Homo sapiens: one gene and its partner. The protein of the gene in region 1 purifies or fractionates together with the protein of each later gene. This does not show direct contact. Each region holds a gene or a part of one and is shown on either strand. Other genes may lie near its edges.

What was found.
Region 2: the proteins of PAIP2B (region 1) and PABPC4 purify together in Homo sapiens (affinity purification with mass spectrometry; 2 studies listed by BioGRID and IntAct, with this or other methods). This does not show direct contact.

What each region holds. Positions count from the first base shown.
Region 1 is NC_000002.12:71,187,585-71,197,560, forward strand, and holds part of PAIP2B (polyadenylate-binding protein-interacting protein 2B), read right to left. Parts: intron 2,438-9,976; coding exon 2,261-2,437; intron 952-2,260; coding exon 895-951; 3' UTR 1-894. UniProt on the Homo sapiens protein: Inhibits translation of capped and polyadenylated mRNAs by displacing PABPC1 from the poly(A) tail.
Region 2 is NC_000001.11:39,565,165-39,575,140, forward strand, and holds part of PABPC4 (polyadenylate-binding protein 4), read right to left. Parts: intron 8,040-9,976; exon of another isoform or gene 7,917-8,039; intron 7,515-7,916; exon of another isoform or gene 7,423-7,514; coding exon 7,229-7,422; intron 6,186-7,228; coding exon 6,070-6,185; intron 5,460-6,069; exon of another isoform or gene 5,316-5,459; intron 4,839-5,315; coding exon 4,699-4,838; intron 4,526-4,698; coding exon 4,431-4,525; intron 3,776-4,430; coding exon 3,638-3,775; intron 2,683-3,637; coding exon 2,587-2,682; intron 2,347-2,586; exon of another isoform or gene 2,210-2,346; intron 215-2,209; coding exon 1-214.

The DNA of each region.
Region 1 (9,976 bases):
CAACAGATTCAAGGATGACTTCTGCAGGCTCATGCTAATTGCCAGCACAGCAGGCCTCCCCTATGCCTTTGGTAGCAGTATCTTTTCTTAAAAAGGAGGCTGGGGAATAGACTTCATGAAAGATGAGGTGGCAGATCAACCCTAGTGCTCTTCTACTTATAAATGGTGAGTCTGATGGTGGTGGTGAACACAGGCTTATGAACAGGACAACAGTAACTAAATGACTCAAGTGACAACCACCATCACAGCCCTACCTTCTGATTTACAACTTTCAACAATCATCAAAAGTTACTGTAAACTAAGTACTTTAAGTCTGTGTTTTCTTGAATGGGGTTCAGGACAAACAGGCAAGGGCTTGACAGCACATTGGTTATCCGAGTTCATTGCAGGAGACCCCGGGGGTGGGGCAGCTGAGCCTCAAATTCCAGTTTGCACCACCTGCTCTTTCTGCTTGTCCCTTTTCCCATCCAACTCAATAGATTCCACAAAAAGCTCTCCAGGTGCTCACTGTCCCTGATAAGTATACAGCAGGGTGAGAGGGGCATTTCCTAAATATCCAGTTTTTCTTAGTCAGCTTATTTTGTTTAAATACACACCGCGGAACACTTCTGATGAAGGGGGGAAAATGCAATTTCCTTAACTCGAAAGAGCTATTTAAAAAAACAAAACAGGAAACTCCCCAAACAAAAGTCAGCAGAACAAAATAGAAATACTCAGAGGCTTAGAATAAGACTGAGCATATTAGTTACTCAGAGTCACAGTATTGTGAGACCACCACTCCCCTTCCCGCTGTGCACCCCTCGCCCGCCCCATCCCCCTCTTCAGCTCCACCATTTTGTGCATTACTATCCCCAGATGTGGGGACAGACAAGTCTTCCTCAAAGCTTTCTCGGCTCAGTACTTCTCTCCTGGAATAAACTCCTTGGCATCTGGGTTCAGGTTACTTTTGCTCTGAAATAAGAACCAAGAGATAGTAAATCCTAAGGCAAGCTGCATTTTAAAACTTACCCAGTCCATCATTATCAGTACCTTCCCCTTAGCTTTAGGGAGAGAAAGAAAATTCCTTGTAACTCAGGCTGTTATTGCTAGGTTATCTCAACTGCACCTGACATAGCCCTGAGCAAGCTCATCTTCTCCTTCCTTCTTTGGACTCTTGTTTCCTTCCTGATGCTTTCCAAAATCTCATCAGAGGCCTGTAAGTTCAACTCCAAGAATAATTTTTCAATTCACTGAGTACCTTAACTTGGTGAAAACCAGGGTACTCCATCAGACCAGGCTGGATACCACAATCTCTATTTTTCTTCATCTTTCTGTACTCTCTTTGGTTCTCTACTCTCTTGTGAATATCCAAAACCTTAGCAAACCACAGGGCAAGATTGTTCAGAATATGAGTTGTATGAAAACTATATTGCTCACAGACTTTTTTTTTTTTTTTTTTTTTGAGACAGTCTTGCTCTGTTGCCCAGGCTGGAGTGCAGTGGTGCAATCTTGGCTCACTGCAAACTCCGCCTCCCTCTGCCTCCCAGGTTCAAGCAATTCTCCTGCTTTAGCCTTCCAAGCTGGGACTACAGGCGCGCACCACCATGCCTGGCTAATTTTTGTATTTTTTTAGTAGATATGGGGTTTCCATGTTGGCCAGGCTGGTCTTGAACTCCAGACCTCAGGTGATCCACCCGCCTCAGCCTCCCAAAGTGCTGGGATTACAGGCGTGAGCCACCGTGCCCAGCCTGCTCACAGACTTCTGATGTTACATAAATATGAAAGGCAGGAAATTAATTTATCTGGTTTTCTAATTCTAAGTGGAGAAAATGACCTCTCAGGAGTACATTTCTTCCAAAATGAACAGCTAATTTTTATAACAGAATCATTTAGAAGTATATTAAATACAGATTTGAGGGACAGTAAAAGAGAAGAATAGCAACAAATGATATTTGAGAAGAAACTTCTTCAGTGTTCAAATTGTTATCCTTAATCCCAATTCTACTTTGAAGAGCCCATTAGAAAGTAAAGGTTGGTGGCGTCCAATCTTGGCAAGTAAAAAGCCCGTGATGCTGGCAACAGTAATGTTTTATAGTGCTTTATGAGGAGCAATGCATCTTTAATGCACCCCTTATTAATAATGCCCATAAAACGAGCAAAGAAACAACAGCTCACAGGGCTCCAGACTTGTTGAGGGTTGTAGGGCTGGAAAGAAAGTCTGTCATTCCAAATCCTATATTCTTTTCACTACATAACCTGGGGAACTACATATGGCTCTTACCAAAATATCTTCAGAATCATGACCTTCACTGACTGACAGTCCATTTAACTGCTGTTGCAACTGTCCCATGGCCTGAGGCAGGTCTCGTGAGGGAATAAACCAGTCTTGGTCTTCTTCATCCAGCATCTCTTGGAAGCAGCGGTCCAAGAAGTCTTGCTCCTGCAGTTCCTCCTCCACCTAGCAAGCAAAGGGGAGCAGCTCAGACTTACTGTCACAGCAAGACTTACCCCTTCCAGTTTTTCCTCCACCTCTTTCCTTCAGAAGGTATTACTCTGCAATTAAGAATGATCTTGAGCTGGGTGTGGTGGCTCACAACTGTAATCCCAGCAGTTTGGGAGACTGAGGCAGGAGGATTGCTTGAGGCCAGGAGGTTTGAGACCAGCCTGAGCAACATAGCATGACCCTGCCTCTACAAAAAAAATTTTAAAATTAGCCAGGCCATAGTGGTGTGTGCCTGTAGTCTCAGCTACTTGGGAGACTGAGGCTGGAGGACAACTTGAATGCAGGAGGTCAAGGCTTCATTGAGCCAAGACTGCGCCACTGCACTTCAGTCTGGGCGACAGAATGAGACCCCGATTCTTTAAAAAATAAAAATATATTTAAAAAAAAGATTTTATGATCTTACATGAGGTCCAAGGGATCTAAGGATTCAATGCGCCTAATGACTAGCTAGAGATAGCATAATTTTTATTTTTTCTCAACCAAATTCTATCACTAATAAGACTAAGAAAATAGTTATTCACAGTAACAGAAATTCAAGGTCTCCGCAGATGTTCTACGATCTCTAATAGGTGATACAGATATCATGGAAAATCATTTTAGAGCCTAAAATTCTTTTCTCAGTCTTGTTACAAAGTAACCCTTCTTAAATTTCCCATTTTATAAGAAATATGAAAAAGATACTGCAAGTATATAACTAGTTCATGACCTGGCTAGTGGAGATAAAATCAAAGCCAATGCTCTCAGCTTCTGGCCATTTTTTGGGTAAGGAAACCCTCAAGGGAGAAAAATACTTTCAGAACATTAGGAAGACATAAAGAACACTTTTTGGCATACCAATAGAAAATTACATAATCAATGTAGTATTCTTTCAAAAGATGAAATATATGAATATTCAAACAATTCTGCATTTCTTAAACATTGCCCTAAACTAAAGCAATATATATCTAGGATATTTTACACTGCTTTGCAGACATTGTTAACTCTTAGTATAGAGTGTGGTTCACTCTGCAGATTTCAGTGTCTTTGATAGGCCTCTTGCTTCATGTTTGGCATCCCTTTCCTGCAGGCTGCCTGGTGACAGATTCACAGCTCACTAGCACCACCACCAGAAATGAGGTCAAGCAAAAAATAATTTCCCAAATTGGAATATACAGTTACCTAATTAATTCAGAGGAAAAGTTACTGGTAGTGAGACTTAAGAATAGTATTTGAACACTACAATTAGCCACACGTGAAAACTAGACAGTTATGAAGTGCTTAATAAAATATTCTCATGCCACAAGATGTAACATGACCATTTGAGAGCTGCCCTGACTCTATGAGAGCATAACAGCATGCTAGCTCTTATTAAATTTACCCCTGTTCACTGGCACAACCAATGAAAATGGTTGCTGGGCACAGAGGTGTAACAGAAACATGCTACGTGCAATTCACACAGATCCCGACAGAGCCACATTAGGTGGAAATTGCTGTCTGTCCCCTTTAAACTTGTTTCCTTCTTCCCAGAGCACCAGGCTGTTCAGTTAAAATCACATTTGTCACCTTACATGCTGTATATGGCCAAGTGACTATTCATCACAAAATGTTCCCACAAGGGACATGGACACTTTGGCATCCCTTGGTTAAAAGAAGACCCCTTGCCATGGCCTTTGGTGCTCTCCCTTTCCCAGCTGCTGGACTTCCCAGTTTTCCCTCAGCCACGCAGCTGATATATGCCCTGGGGGTGGCAGAGCAATACCGTGGAAGGGACCAAGTGGGCACCAGATCACTTGTCTATCCAGAATGCTTACCTTGGACTGTTAACCTCACAGATATAAAACAATGCGTTACTGCTGAATCTTTGCTGAAGTAGTCTAGCCAACCCTCACCTCATGTACTTCTCTATTTCAGACTCACATCCTGCCAATCCCGAGTTCCCATTTGAGGCATGCCATGCTGACCTGTCTGCATATAGCTGCTGTTTCCCACAAATCTACACCCAATAACACAGGGCATTAGACCAAAACAACTTCCTTTCATAAAATAAATTTCCTCACCTTTTCCCATTAACACAAATTTTCCATGAAAACACTGCAAAAGGAGAGCAGAAACTAGATTTTTAGGAACTGGACTTAACCACATATGATTAATGAAAAATATTATATATGGGCACACGTTTTATTGCATTTTGCTGTATTTTGCTTCATAGATACTGCATTTTTTTTTTTTTTTTTACAAATTGAAGGTTTGTGGCAACCTTGCATCAAGCAAGCCTATTGGCGCCTTTTTATCAACAGCATGTGCTCAATGTCTGTGTCACATTTTGGTAATTCTCTCAATTTTTCAAACTTTTTCATTATTATTATATCTGTTATAGTGCTCTGTAATCAGTAATCTTTGATGTTACTTTTTTTTTAATTTTAGGTTTGAAGTACACGTGAAGGTTACATAAACACATGTCACAGGGGTTTGTTGTACATATTATCATATCACCAGGTATTAAGCTCAGTACCCAATAGTTACCTATTCTGCTCCTCTCTCTCCTCCCACCCACCCCCGTCAAGTAGACCCCAGTGTCTGTTGTTCCTTGTGTTCATAAATTCTTATCATTTAGCTCCTACTTATAAGTGAGAACATGTAGTGTTTGGTTTCCTGTTCCTGTGTTAGTTTGCTAAGGATGATAGCCTGCAACTCCATCCATGTTCCTGCAAAGGACATAATCTCATTATTTTTTATGGCTGCGTAATATTCCATGGTGTATATGTACCACATTTTCTTTATCCAGTCTGTCACTGATAAATGGGCATTTAGTTGATTCCATGTCTTTGCTATTGTGAACAGTGCTGCAATGAACATTTGTGTACATGTGTCTTTATGGTAGAATGCTTTACATTCCTCTGGGTCTACAACCAGTAATGGGATTGCTGGGTTGAATTGTAGTTTTAGCTCTTTGAGGAATCGCCATACTGCTTTCCACAATGGCTGAAGTAATTTACACTCCTACCAACATTGTATAAGCCTTCCCTTTTCTCCACAACCTCACCAGCACGTGTTTTTTCTTTTTTTTTACTTTTTAGTCATAGCCATTCTGACTGGTGTGAAATTGTATCTCATGGTGGTTTTGACTCGCATTTCTCTAATGATCAGTGATATTGAGCTTTTTTTCATATGCTTGTTGGCCGTATGTATGTCTTCCTTTTGAGAGGTGTCTGTTCATGTCCTTTGCCCACTTTTTAATGGGGTTGTTTTTCTCTTGTAAATTTAAGTTCCTTATAGATGCTTGATATCAGACCTTTGTCATATGCATAGTATGCAAATATTTCCTCCCTTTCTGTAGGTTGTCTGTTTACTCTGTTGATAGTTTCTTTTGCTGTACAGAAGTTCTTAAGTTATTTAGATCTCATTTGTCAATTTTGGCTTTTGTTGCAATTGCTTTTGGTGTCTTCGCCATTAAATCTTTGACCATTCCTATGTCCAGGATGGTATTGCCTAGGTTGTCTTCCAGGGTTTTTATAGTTTTGGGTTTTAGCCAGGTGCAGTGGCTCCGCCTGTAATCCCAGCACTTTAGGAGGCTGAGGCAGGCAGATCATGAGGTTAGTAGACTGAGACCATCCTGGCTAACACGGTGAAACCCCTTCTCTGCTAAATAATACAAAAAATTAGCCGGGTGTGGTGGCAGGCACCTGTAGTCCCAGCTACTCTGGAGGCTGAGGCAGGAGAATGGCGAGAATCCGGGAGGCGGAGCTTGCAGTGAGTACTCCAGCCTGGGCTACAGAGCAAGACTCTGTCCCAAAAAAAAAAAAAGTTTTGGGTTTTACATTTGTCTTTAATCCATCTTGAGTTTATTTTTGTATATGGTGTAAGGAAGGGGTCCAGCTTCAAACTTCTGCATATGGCTAGCCGGTTATCCCAGCACCATTTATTAAACAGGGAGTCTTTTCCCTAGTGCTTGTTTTTGTCAGCTTTGTCAAAGATCAGATGTAGATGTGTGGTCTCATTTCTGGGGTCTCTGTTCTGTTCCACTGGTTTATGTGCCTGCTTTTGTACCAGTACCATGCTATTTTGGTCACTGTAGACTTGCAGTATAGTTTGAAGTCAGGTAACGTGATGCCCTCAGCTTTGTTCTTTTTACTTATGATTGCCTTGGCTATTCGTGCACTTTTTAGGTTCCATATAAATTTTGAAATATTTTTTTCTAGTTTTGTGAAGAATGTCATTGGTAGTTTGATAGGAATAGCATTGAATCTGTAAACTGCTTTGGGCAGTATAGCCATTTTAATGATATTGATTCTTCCTATCCATGAGCATGGGATGTTTTTCCATTTGTTTGCATCTTCTCTGATTTGTTTGAGCAGTGTTTTGAAATTCTCATTGTAGAGATCTTTTACCTCCCTGGTTAGCTGTATTCCTAGGTTGTGTGTGTGTGTGTGTGTGTGTGTGTGTGTGTGGCAACTGTGAATGGGATTGCCTTTCTGATTTGGCTCTCAGTTTGGTGGTTGTTGGTGTATAGGAATGCTAGTGATTTTTGTACATTGATTTTGTATTCTGCAACTTTGCTGAAGTTATTTATCAGCTAAAGGAGCTTTTGGGCTGAGACTACGGAGTTTTCTAGATATAGAATCATGTTGTCTGCAAACAGATATAGTATGACTTCCTCTCTTCCTATTTGGATGCCCTTTATCTTGCCTGATTGCTCCAGCTAGGACTTCCAATACTATGTTGAATGTAAGTGGTGAGAGAGGGCATCCTTGTCTTGTACCGGTTTTCAAGGGGAATGCTTCCAGCTTTGGCTCATTCAGTATAACGTTGGCTGTGGGTTTGTCATAGATGACTCTTATTATTTTGAGGTATATTCCTTCAATACCTAGTTTATTGAGAGTTTTAAACATGAAGCAATGTTGAATTTTATCAAAAGACTTTTCTGCTTCTATTGAGATAATCATGTGGCTTTTATCTTTAATTCTGTTTACATGATGAATCACATTTATTGATGTTTGCATGTTGAACCAACCTGGCATCCCGGGGATGAAGCCTACTTAATCATTGTGGATTAGCTTTTTGATGTGCTGCTGGATTTGGTTTGCAAGTATTTTGTTGAGGATTCAATGTTCATCAAGGATATTTCCCTGAAGTTTTCTTGTTTTGTTGTGTCTCTACTAGGTTTTGGTATCAGGATGATGCTGGCCTTGTAGAATGAGTTGGGGAGAAATCCCTCCTCCTCAATTTTTTAGAATAGTTTCTGTAGGAATGGTACCAGCTCTTCTTTGTATGTCTGGTAGAATTTGGCTGTGAGTCCATCATGTCCTGGGCTTTTTTGGTTGGTAAGCTATTTATTACTGATACAATTTCAGAGCTCATTATTAGTCAGTTCAGGGAATCAATTTCTTCCTAGCTCAGTCTTGGGAGGGTTTATGTGTCCAGGAATTTATCCATTTCTCCTAGGTTTTCTAGTTCATGTGTGTAGTGCTTGTAGTAGTTTTTGATGGTTGTTTTATTTCTGTGGGGTCAGTAGTAACATTCCCTTTGTCATTTCTAATTGTGTTTATTTGGATCTTCTCTATTTTCTTCTTAATTACTGCAGCTACTAGCCTATTTCATTAGTTTTTTTCTTGAGATGAAGTCTCGCTCTGTCACCCAGGCTGGAGTGCAGTGGTGCAATCTCAGCTCCCTGCAACATCTGCCTCCTGGGTTCATGCATTCTCCTGCCTCAGCCTCCCATGCAGCTGGGATTACAGGCACATGCCACCATGCCTGGCTAATTTTTGCATTTTTAGTAGAGATGGGTTTCACCATGTTGGCCAGGCTGGTCTCAAACTCCTGACCTCAAGTGATCTGCCCACCTCAGCCTCCCTAAGTGCTGGGACTATAGGCATGAGCCACCACGCCTGGCCTATTTCATTAACTTTTTTCAAAAAACCAACTCCTGGATTCGCTGATCTCTTAAATGGTTTTTCATGTCTCAGTTTTCTTCAGTTCATCTCTGATTTTTGTTATTTCTCGTCTTCTGCTAGCTTTGGGGTTGATTTGCTCTTGCTTGTCTAATTCTTTCAGTTGTGATGTTAGGTTGTTAATTTGAGATCTTTTATCACTTTGTGAGGTGGGCATTTAGTGCTATGAATTTCCCTCTTAACACTGCCTTAGCTATGTTCCAGAGATTCTGGTATGTTGTATCTTTGTTCTCCTTATTTTCAAATAACTTGATTTCTGCCTCAATTTCATTATTTACCTGAAAGTCATTCAGGAGTATGTTGTCTAATTTCCATGTAATTGTATGGTTTTATTTTCATTGTGTTGACTTCTATTTTTATTGTGCTGTGGTCCAAGAGTGTGTTTGGTATGATTTCGGTTCTTTTACACTTGTTGAGGATTGTTTTATGTCCAATTATGTGGTCAATTTTAAAGTGTGTACCATGTGGCAATGAGATTAATGTACACTCTGTTGTTTTTGGGTGGAGACTTCTGTAAAGGTCTAGCAGACCCATTTGTTCCAATGGTGAATTTAGGTCCTGTATATCTTAGTTAATTTTCTGCTTCAATGATCTAATATTGTCAGTGGAGTATAGAAGTCTCACATTATTAATATTATGTGGCTGTCTATGTCTTTTTGCACCCAGATTCATAAAGAACTTGCTTTATGAATCTGGGTGCTCCTATGTTGTGTGCATATGTATTTAGGAAAGTTAGGTCTTCTTGCTGAATTGAACCCTTTACCATTATGTAATGTCCTTCCCTTGTCTTTTTTTATCTTTGTTGGTTTAAAATCTGTTTTGTCTGAAATTAGGATTGCAACCCCTGCTTTTTTCTGTTTTCCATTTGCTTGGTAGATTTCTCTCCATCCCTTTATTTTGAGCCTATGAGTGTCATTATGTGTGAGATGGGTTTCTTGAAGACAGCATGCTATTGGGTCTTGCTTTTTTACCCAGCTTGCCACTCTGTGCCTTTTAAGTGAGGCATTTAGCTCATTTACATTCAATGTTGGTATTGATATGTGTGGATTTGATCCTGTCATTGTGCTGTTTGCTGGTTATTATGTTGGCCTGTTTGTGTGGTTGTTTTACAGTGACACTGGTCTGTGTGGTTAAGTGGGTTTTTGTATTAGCTGGTAGTGGTCTTTCCTTTCTATATTTAGTGCTCTTTTCAAGGTCTCCTGTAAGGCAAGTTTAGTAGTAATGAAGTCCCTCAACATTTGCTTATCTGAAAAGGATCTTATTTTTCCTTCATTTAAGAAACTTAGTTTGGCTGGATATAAATTCTTGGTTGAAGATTTTTTTACTCTAAGAATGTTAAATATAGTCCCCCAGTCTCTTCTGGCTTATAGGGTTTCAGCCAAGAGGTCTGCTGTTAGCCTGATAGGGATCTCTTTGTAGGTGACCTACCCTTTCTCTCTAGCTGTCTTTAATATTCTTTCATTTTGACCTTGGAAAGTCTGATGATTATGTGTCTTGGGAATGATCTTCTTGTGTGGAATCTTGCAGGAGTTCTCTGTATTTTCTGAATTTGACTGTTGGACTCTCT
Region 2 (9,976 bases), on another chromosome or scaffold:
CATTGGCAGGAAGTGCTCTCATTCCAGCCACTCGTTGCATATACTGGTTGGTCAGGTGAGCCTTTCTCTCTTCCTTCCTCTGGGCCAGGGCAACATATAGTGGCTTGGAGCCCACAATGCGTCCATTCATCTCAGTGACTGCTTTGGTTGCTTCTTCAGGAGATGAGAAGCAGACGAAGCCAAACCCTTTGCTTCTTCCATCCTCCAGCATTACCTACAAAATGAGACCAGCTACTTAAGAAATAAGGTGTCCCTGGCTGGGTGTGATGGCTTGTGCCTGTAATCCCAGCACTTTGGAAGGCTGAGGTGGGAGGGCTGCTTGAGCTCAGGAGGTTGAGACCAGCTTGAGCAATGTAGTGAGACCTCATCTCAAAAAAACAAAGGGCCAGGCGCAGTGGCTCATGCCTGTAATCCCAGCACTTTGGGAGGCCGAGGTGGGTGGATCACGAGGTCAGGAATTCAAGACCATCCTGACCAACATGGTGCAACCCCGTCTCTACTAAAAATACAAAAATCAGCTGGGCGTGGTGGCACACACCTGTAATCCTAGCTACTCAGGAGGCTGAGGCAGGAGAACCGCTTCAACCCGGGAGACAGAGATTGCAGTGAGCCGAGATCGCGCCACTGCACTCCAGCCTGGGCGACAGAGCGAGACTCCATCTCCAAAACAAAACAAAACAAAACAAAACAAAACAAAACAAAAACACCAACCAACCAAACCAACAAAAAAAACAAAACAAACCTACAAATAGGAAAAAAAAGGATGTCCCTGGGTGGGGAGGGAACTATTCAGAAGAACCAGAAAGCCTGGGTTCTGCTGCAGTCACTGAGTCTAGGTCAGGGTTCTGGCACAGGATTTACCCCAGACCAACTAAGTCACAACCTCTAAGGTATCTAGGTGTTTTCTTTGAGTCCCCAGGTGATGCTAAAGTTCTGAAACACTATGATATGGCTAATAATAAAACCAGGAACTCAAAGATGTTTCCTGATACCTGGTGGATAGCTACTCCGGGTAACCACAAAACATCTTGAGAGTAGTACTGAGCAATTTATTTTCATATCTCATATGCTTCAAGACCTCGGTGGACAAACTCTAACAAGCTCTTACCAACGTCAGGATAACACTTTTGGAATACCACGTGTGGACAGGAGTCCTAAAATGTTCAGGTAACCAATGACTGCCACCATTAATTCAATGAGATGACCAGCTCAGAGATAGGCAGCCTAGATTCTAGTCTCACTTGCCTTCCTGAGGCTCAATTTCCAAGAAATACTCCAAACAGCTACAAAACCACAGGTCTACTGGTTCAGGCAGTCTTTTCCCACATTAAGTTCATCATTCACAAATGGCATTCTTCCTAATAGACAAGGTTATTCACTGTCTTCTCTGGTGTGACTGTCATTGTTTTATGTCTTAGTTAATGGCCCAGAGAGCCTCCTGAAGTGGAGGATAGGGAAGTAAAGAAGTGCATCACTCCATAACTCTCTACCAATGAGATGGGCCAGTAAGGTATGTGAATAAAAATGCCACACCATCATAATGAAAATGGGGACAATTCAAGGTATGGCTCTTCTGCTCTCTTAACAAATGCCAACTTGACTACTAGGCAGATAAGCAAGGATAGAAGATCACTCCTTACACTGATGAGGGCCAGTCAAGGGGGGGGTCATAGCAAAAACGAAAGGGTAAGAACTGGGCAAACCCACAGTTGGCCTCTGGCCAACTCCCTACTACAACTGATAACATTGCTTTCCACATTCCCAGGTTGGGAGCAAAGTCCACTAAGAGCCAGGGCAGGGCCACTAAGCCCTTACCAGCCCACGTGGCTTCCCTTCTCATCAACTAAAGGATTTTGTGGCATCTGGTACACCTGTTTAGCAAGACCGGCGTCTGCATCCGGCCATAACTCAAAATGTTCAGATGGCACCAGTTTCCATCCTGCTCCCAAAGTGCCAAGGACAAGCAGTACACCATCCCCATGTAGTCAGCATTCTCTTGTTCAAGGACTAAAATTCCTTATCTTTAAAATGAGGTTCCTACTTACCCTGCTAACTTAGTTGATATGATTATCAAAGAAAATCAAGCAAATGATGCACACTACGAAACATAGAAAAACCTTCCACTCCCCTTTCCTCTCTTTTTAAGACCAGGGTAGAAGTTCCCAAGCCCACCTCCAAAATCTTCAAAATACCTTCATTCTCAAGGAGAAAATGTGGCAGAGCTGTAGAGACAGGCCCCAAGACAAATGGAAAACAACCTGTCTGGATTTCCTCTGCTCATTCTGTAGCACCATCTGTCCCCACACCGGCACGAGGCAGCAAGGAATGGGAAAGATTCAGGTGCTCTGAGTTGGCAAGGAGGGGCTGGGTCAAATTCCTCTCCAGACTCCAGTGCTTGGGAAACAGTGTAATGTTAACCTAATGAAATGTCATTCTCCAGAATGCATCCAGAAATTTTGCTAGAAAAACGTAGTAGCTACTTTCAGAAATGAACATAATTTAAATGCTATTCCTTCAATGGGACAAATGCCAATAAGCCTATAATGGAATACCACTGCTTTCAATCCCCAGATCGCAGTATAATACCTTAGCACTGGTAATTGATCCAAAAGGAGAAAATTCTTTCCTTAATTTCTCATCATCAATAGTGTCATCCAAGTTCTTAATGTAGAGATTCACCCCCTGAAGGAAAAAGATCACTGTTAACTACACTTCTATATCACAAATATTCCCTAAGAAAGTGGTTCCCCAAGGGTGGCCCCAGACCAGGAGCACCAGCATCTTTGGGAACTTGTTAGAAATGAAATTCTCGGCCGGACGCGGTGGCTCACGCCTGTAATCCCAGCACTTTGGGAGGCCGAGGCGGGCGAATCACAAGGTCAGGAGATCGAGACCATCCTGGCTAACACAGTGAAACCCCGTCTCTACTAAAAATACAAAAAATTAGCCAGGCATGGTGGCGGGTGCCTGTAGTCCCAGCTACTCAGGAGGCTAAGGCAGGAGAATGGTGCGAACCCGGGAGGCGGAGTTTGCAGTGAGCCGAGATTGTGCCACTGCACTCCAACCTGGGCGACAGAGCGAGACTGTCTCAAGAAAAAAAAAAAAAAAAGAAAGAAATGAAATTCTTAGGCCAGACCCCAAACCCAATGAATAAGAAAAACTCTGGGGCTGGAGCCCAGCTATCTGTTTTAACAAGCTCTGCTGATGAATCTGATGCAAGTCCAAAGTTGTGAAACTACTGCCCTGAAACTGACAGGATCATCAGTGCACTCACCTTTTGTCACCTCTCCCCACAGCTGTTCTGGTGACCACTCACCCACCCCAGCAGGGGTCTTCTTGAAGCCATGCCAAACAAAGGAGTCTCATTTAAGTAAAAGGAACCTACATGGCTAAAAGCAACAGGCTGAGGCTTCCAAAATAGAGAGCTTCTTGATGAATAAACCCATCTCTTGTTTCTGGTTCTATAATAATCAGTCATATGTAGTAGGTATATATCCTTTTAAACCTCATCTTTTTAGGTAAAATGGGAAGAAGAACACACTCCAAGTCCTCAAAAAGAAAGCCCGCTAAACATAGGGGTGTTCTGCAAATATTTCACAGCAAATCCCATTGCTAGGCTGGGCCAAGACCACCTTACCTGATATCGACTAATTCTCTCCTGTTTCAACTGTTCAAATTTCCGTTTTAACTCTGCCTGCCGTTCTACTTTCTTTTGTGCACGGCCTACAAATATGATTTTACCACTTATTTCTTTTCCATTCATCTCTTCCACAGCCTAGAGAGGAAAAATATGTCTTTAAAATAAAGTTGCAGCGATGGGGTCTTATTCTGGAGGTCTAAGTCCCAAAAAATATTCTTTCTACTATAGGACTAAAAACTAAATTCACTCCACCTCTGAAGTCTGTCACACAAATCCAAACTTCCTCATCTGTAAAGTGAGGTTAATATTTAAATGGGTTATTGATCCAGATAATATAGAAATAGTACAGGTGTATAAACACAAGTGTGCTGACATGAGCCTAGGGCGATATAATATTCCGGCTGCCAGTAAATTCTGCAGGTGCTTTTGTGGGTATTTAAGTGATAAATATTGAGGGTCTGGCACAATGCTTTGCCCACAAGTAGCTGCCGTGCTGTTATCAAATCAGCACTCACTGGGCTTTAGTTCTCTCACCTTTGCAGCATAACAAACGTCTGTCCTATTCTTTCAACAACTGATAGCTGAGGTGACAGGTATGTGCCAAGTGCTTTGTAAACACCTACATGAAGTTAACATGCGGAACCCAGGAAGATGATCCCAGAGTATAGTAATGGTACATCTACTACCAGATACTCAGACCGTCCCAGCTCTAGGTAGGTGCTAGCAAGACCCTACCCATACTCTGGGGCAACCTCTTAAAAGCTTTTCCCAATCTTTGTGGTATACTCACCTTATTGGCATCCTCGTGTTTTTCGTAACTCACAAAGCCAAAGCCTTTGGATTTCCCATTGGGATCTCTCATCACCTTGACACTTAGGGTCTTACCTATTACCAAAGGACAGAACTATTAGTAACACCATCTTGAGCACAGCTCAGGAACAGAAGGCTTCCCTCTGGAAACTCACTTGAAGCAAATCTCTGGAGCAGTGCCCTCATCTCTTAAGAAAAAACAGATGGGTCTGGTAGACTGTGAAAGGAGACAAGGAACCCCAACTTACCAAACTGACTGAATAGCTCTTTCAGACTCTCATCATCCACCTCTTCCCCAAAGTTTTTGATATAAACATTGGTGAATTCCTTGGCTTTGGCTCCAAGCTCAGCTTCCCGCTCTTTGCGAGACTTGAATCTGCCCACAAATCTAAAATGAAACCATGAAGAACAGTAATTACCCAGAGGAATAAAACATGATGTCCAGGGACCCAAAGGAATACAGGTTAAAGACTGACAGGAGAGGTTAAAACACGAGATCCCCATCCACCACCAAGGAGGCTCAGAGATACCCCAAGTCCCCAGCAGAAAGAGAAAAAGGCAGGACTATCCTGTGAGGACCAGCCCCAGGGCTCCTGGCTTAGACCAGGGCTATTCCTACCACATCACACTGCCTTCATGAAGAAACCTGATGGCCATGTTTTTAAAATGTTCATTTCTGTGCAACTATGTAAATGCATAGAAAAGGTCTGGAAGGATACAAACCAAACTGTTAACAGTGGTTAATCCTAGATATGAGATTGTTGGAGTGAAGGGGCACCCTTTGCTTTTTAAATTTATTTATTTTGGTCTGTTATACTTAAAAGAAAATTTATCCATGCACTGACATTTTTGTATTTCTTTTTAGTGATATCTGTAGATCAACCACTGCACACACAGACATTATAAAGATAACCCATCCTCTGGCATACTGAATGACACAAAGGACAAAAATTATTTTGGCTTGTAATAGCCAAGACTTATTGTCTCTTCTTCTCCCCATATGGCTTTGGTAAGTTCCCCCTCTCTGCATTCTACAGTAACAACCACATCAAAGCAACAAGGTCTGTTATGAAGTTTTTCTGCAAAGGGATGGGATTTTTTCATTGTCACCAAGTATTACTGTGGAGCCAGCCTTGTATTAGGTCACTGAGTCATAAGTTAGAAAATGGAGAACCGCGGGGACAATTTGGCATCAACCACTAGCGAGGGACCCATGGACAGACCTGAATCACAGGAAAGCCAAGGTCACACTGCTAGTATACAGCTCCTGGTCAGTCCAGGGCCCTCTCCACTCTGCCGCTGGCCAAGACCCCGACTCAGAGTGAGCTTAGAGCTGCTTTCCAGCCAGCCCCAGTTGTTGATGCTCACAAAACCCACAGACAGATGCCTTTAAGGGAGAGGCGGCAGGCAGGCCATGGCTTGGGCAGGAAGCCCACCTTGGCGAGTCAAAAGGGCTGCCACGGCTCAGGCAGGGAGACTCACCAGCCCTGGAGTGGAGAGGTAGGAGCAGGCCACACTTGGGCCGAGAACCAGTAGCCGCCTTGTGTGTGCCAGTTAATAGCGAGGTGGGGCCACGGCTGGCTCATGCGATGGTTGTTGCTCCGGACTGGGACACTCACACTTTGCGGTCATTGAGGAGCATGCCATTCATCTTCTCGATGGCCTTGTCGGCAGCCTCTTGGGTCTCGAAGTGGACAAAGGCATAACCCTTAGAGCCGTTCTCATCACACACCACCTGTCAAAGACAAGGCGGACCACTTTAGCAGAACTGGCCAGCTCCTGAGACATGAGAACCTCAGGGTATCTTGTGCCTGAGGAGACTCTAGCCCATCCATGGCCAATGGTGGTCAAGTACACCAGTATAATTTTTCTAACACCTAGCACAGCACCAGGTGCCTAGTAAGTGTTCCATTTACAAAGGTAGCCCTACTAAGATGCTTCTATTCCAAATGTTTTATTTTTATCAAAAACAAACAAACAAAAAATACTTAAAATTGGGTGCTGTGGCTCATGCCTGTAATCCCAATGCTTTGGGAGGCCAAAGCAGGAGGATCGTTGGAGCCAGATCGTTGGACAATGGAGACCCTGTCTCTACAAAAAAGAAAAAAATTAAATGAGTGTGGTGGCACGTGCCTGTAGTTCCAGCTACTTGGGAGGCTGAGGTGGGAGGATGGCTTGAGCCCAGGAGGTCGAAGCTACAATGAGCTATTACTAGACCACTGCACTCCACCCTGGGTGACAGACAGAGCAAGACTCTGTCTCTTTAAAACACAACAACACATTTTAAGAGATCTGGGTGCAAACCACGGTGATGCAGAAAACAAAACATTTTCCAAGGCCACAACAGATTTTCAGTGTAGTATGGCATTAAACATATACACCACCACCGTTTAAGTTTTAAAGTGCTCAGCATAGAACAGATACGTAGAAGGAATAGAGTGAATTTATGCTTCTAAAGTGATTAAGTTTCCTCAAGACTAGAGACACTTCTCTGGTCCTCTACTTTCCCCCATCCCAAAAGAAAAACGTGGGCTTTCCAAAGCTAAAGAATAGGAAGGATATTTCAGGCTGAGTAAAGAACAAGGGTATGAAAGCGTGTGCTGGTTACGCTGGGTATGGCCCTGAGATTACCTATGGGAACTTTTAGGATTCCATGTCCAGCATTTTGAAAATTCCCATATCTTGTTCCCCAATTCCAAGATAGTTCTCTGTTTGGTATTTATCTTGTTTTCAAGAATCAATTAATTATTCTGCTAAAATCATTTAATCAATGTTTACCTTGCAGGACAGTATGTTTCCAAAAGCAGAAAAAGTATCATAAAGTGCCTTGTTATCTATAGATTTGTCCAGGTTCTTGATGAAGACGTTTCCCACACCAGATTTTCTCAAAGAGGGATCCCTCTGAGACCACATGATGCGGATTGGCTTTCCCTTAATCACATCAAAGTTCATGGTGTCCAAAGCCCGCTCAGCTGTAAGAGAGAAACACATTTCAATAAGGAGAGAAAACGTCAGCTCCCACAGGCCAACAGCCTAAGAACAGATTACTCCAGGACTTTTCAAGGTAATCACTCTTGATAAAAGGCAACTCTATTAAAATAAAAGGGCATCAGATTCCTCCAGCCTGCACTGTTAGTAAGGGAAGCATAAGTTCCAGCTAATGACTCTACTTCATGACAGAAGTCTAAACACCCTTCTGGGTCTGTGCCCTTGTTGGATAAAGGGGCCACAAGTAAAGATAATCTAAATGGCCTTAATGACACCAAGATCCAGTGATAATACCTCACATTTGACTAAGCTTTACCACTTAGAAGAGACTTTGCAGACTACCACCCACCATGACTCAGGTGGGACAGCTGAAATTATACATTTTACAAAATGAACAAACTTATGTTTAGGGTAACTAAGCTGTGCAGCTAGCTAGTAATTACGAAACTAATACTAGATTATCTGATTTATTTTTCAGTGAGGTATTGCATCAAAGTTATCAAGTCATTTAGTCTGCAATCCACCTATGGAGACAAGTGACAAAACCTGTAAAGCAAATGATCTGGAAAAAAAAAAAAAGGTGCTATCCCTGAATTCAGAATTCAGTCCAGTTTATTTTCAATTTCTGAGAACAGAAATTGACTTAAACAAAAAAGCATCAGTCATCAAAATGGACACAACTGATCACACATGGAAAAGTTCTCTGTACTATCACAAGGATAAAACCACCATACCTTCTGCCTAAGTAGACAGTGCGCAGATGGCAGGCCCTGCACCCACCTTTTGAAGCCTTAATGGAAGTTCTGTAGAATTCTAGGACTTCAGCTACCCTGGGTGCTCAACCAACTTCCCCATCCAACACCTTGGAATGCTTCCTTAGCTTCCCAACCAAGTCCGTGTGTACACCAGAGACAATTTAAAGAACCAAAGGCTGGGCTGGGTATGGTGGCTCACTCCTGTAATCCCAGCACTTTGGGAGGCCAAGGCGGGTGGATTACCTGAGGTCAGGAGTTCGAGACCAGCCTGACCAACATGGTGAAAACCCCATCTCTACTAAAAATACACAATTAGCTGGGCATGGTGGCGGGTGCCTGTAATCCCAGCTACTCAGGAGACTGAGGCAGGAAAATTGTTTGGACCCAGGAGTCAGAGGTTGCAGTGAGCTGAGATCGCGCCATTGCACTCCAGCCTGGGCAGCAAGAGTGAAACAGTGTCTCAAAACAAACAACAACAAAAAGAACCAAAAGCTAAAAAATAACACCACCTGCCAGCCAAAACACTTCTCATCACTAATCGCAACAAGGATGCCCAGATCTGGTGGCCACTTTTCCTTAAGGCTATGATGGCATCTCCTAACGGTGACATCACCCAGAACCTCCTCCATGAGGGGATTTAGACAGGGTCAGAGCAGTGGAACCTGCTCCTTGCCTCAGGACAACATCTCACTTAAAGGGGGGACAAAATTCCCCAACTCTGCCGCTCCACAAGCTCAACTGTTTCATTAGCCGGGAGAATTTATTTTCACTCATTATTTCCAACAACTTTCCCCACCCCCTTCAGAAGGTGGGCCTCATCTGTGTGGGGGGTAGTTGGGAAAAGGGGAGATGACAAGACCGATCCAAGTCAGGAACAGTCCAGGGAAAGAGGACTTTGCTTGTGATGGCTATCAGAGATAGATAGCTGGGATCGCAAACTATTTCATTAATTAGCAGTAAAGGAGCCCACTTCAACAACAGCTCCTCGTCTATTTCCAGACAGCACTGCACAAGGCAAGCCGGCTTAGTCTGACAAATCTGGCTGCACTTATTTATAGCAGGGAGAAGTCCTGCAGAAGTATGTGTTGGCAGACACACTGACCAATAGCTTCTGCTATCTCTAAGTGACACGACTTTTGTTCAAAAGTCAGTAAGGCAGACAACAGCTAATGTGGTACATTATCCCTTAAAAAGACCACACTCAGCTACCTTTGCGCTCCTATGGCCATGGACAGAACTCAGCTTGGAGCACACTGGATTGACAGTAGCAATACCTAGTCCCTCTCAACATGTCCAATTCTCTGGTCTCAGCCGCAACCTGGGCAGGTAGTAACTCTGGGCCTCAGACAGAAAACAAAGGGGGGACCCCAAAACTAGGGACCTGGAGATGCTTTGCCATAGAATGGCTTGTTTCTCCCAGTAATGATCTCTGCAGTTGTTCCCTTTTAATCTGGAGTCACGTGCAGCCTCTGATCAGGTTTCCTCTGGCCTCCCTCCTGCCACGCCTGCAGCATACCTCTCTCCATGCTCCACGCTAAGGCCACAATCTGAGGTGGCAGAGCACTGTGCTGGGAGTCCTAACTTGGCTTCCAACTTTTTGCATTCGTTCTCCTTCTCAGGAGTCCCATTTTCTTCAGATTAGATGAAATAAAAGGGCTCTGACTAGTGCAAAGCACTGTTACAGCTGAGGTGACAAATGACACCAGATTTTCAAGTGACGCTTCCCTAAACTACCTCCACGACACTCTACAGCACAGAGCCTGGATACCATTTGTCCAGAGTA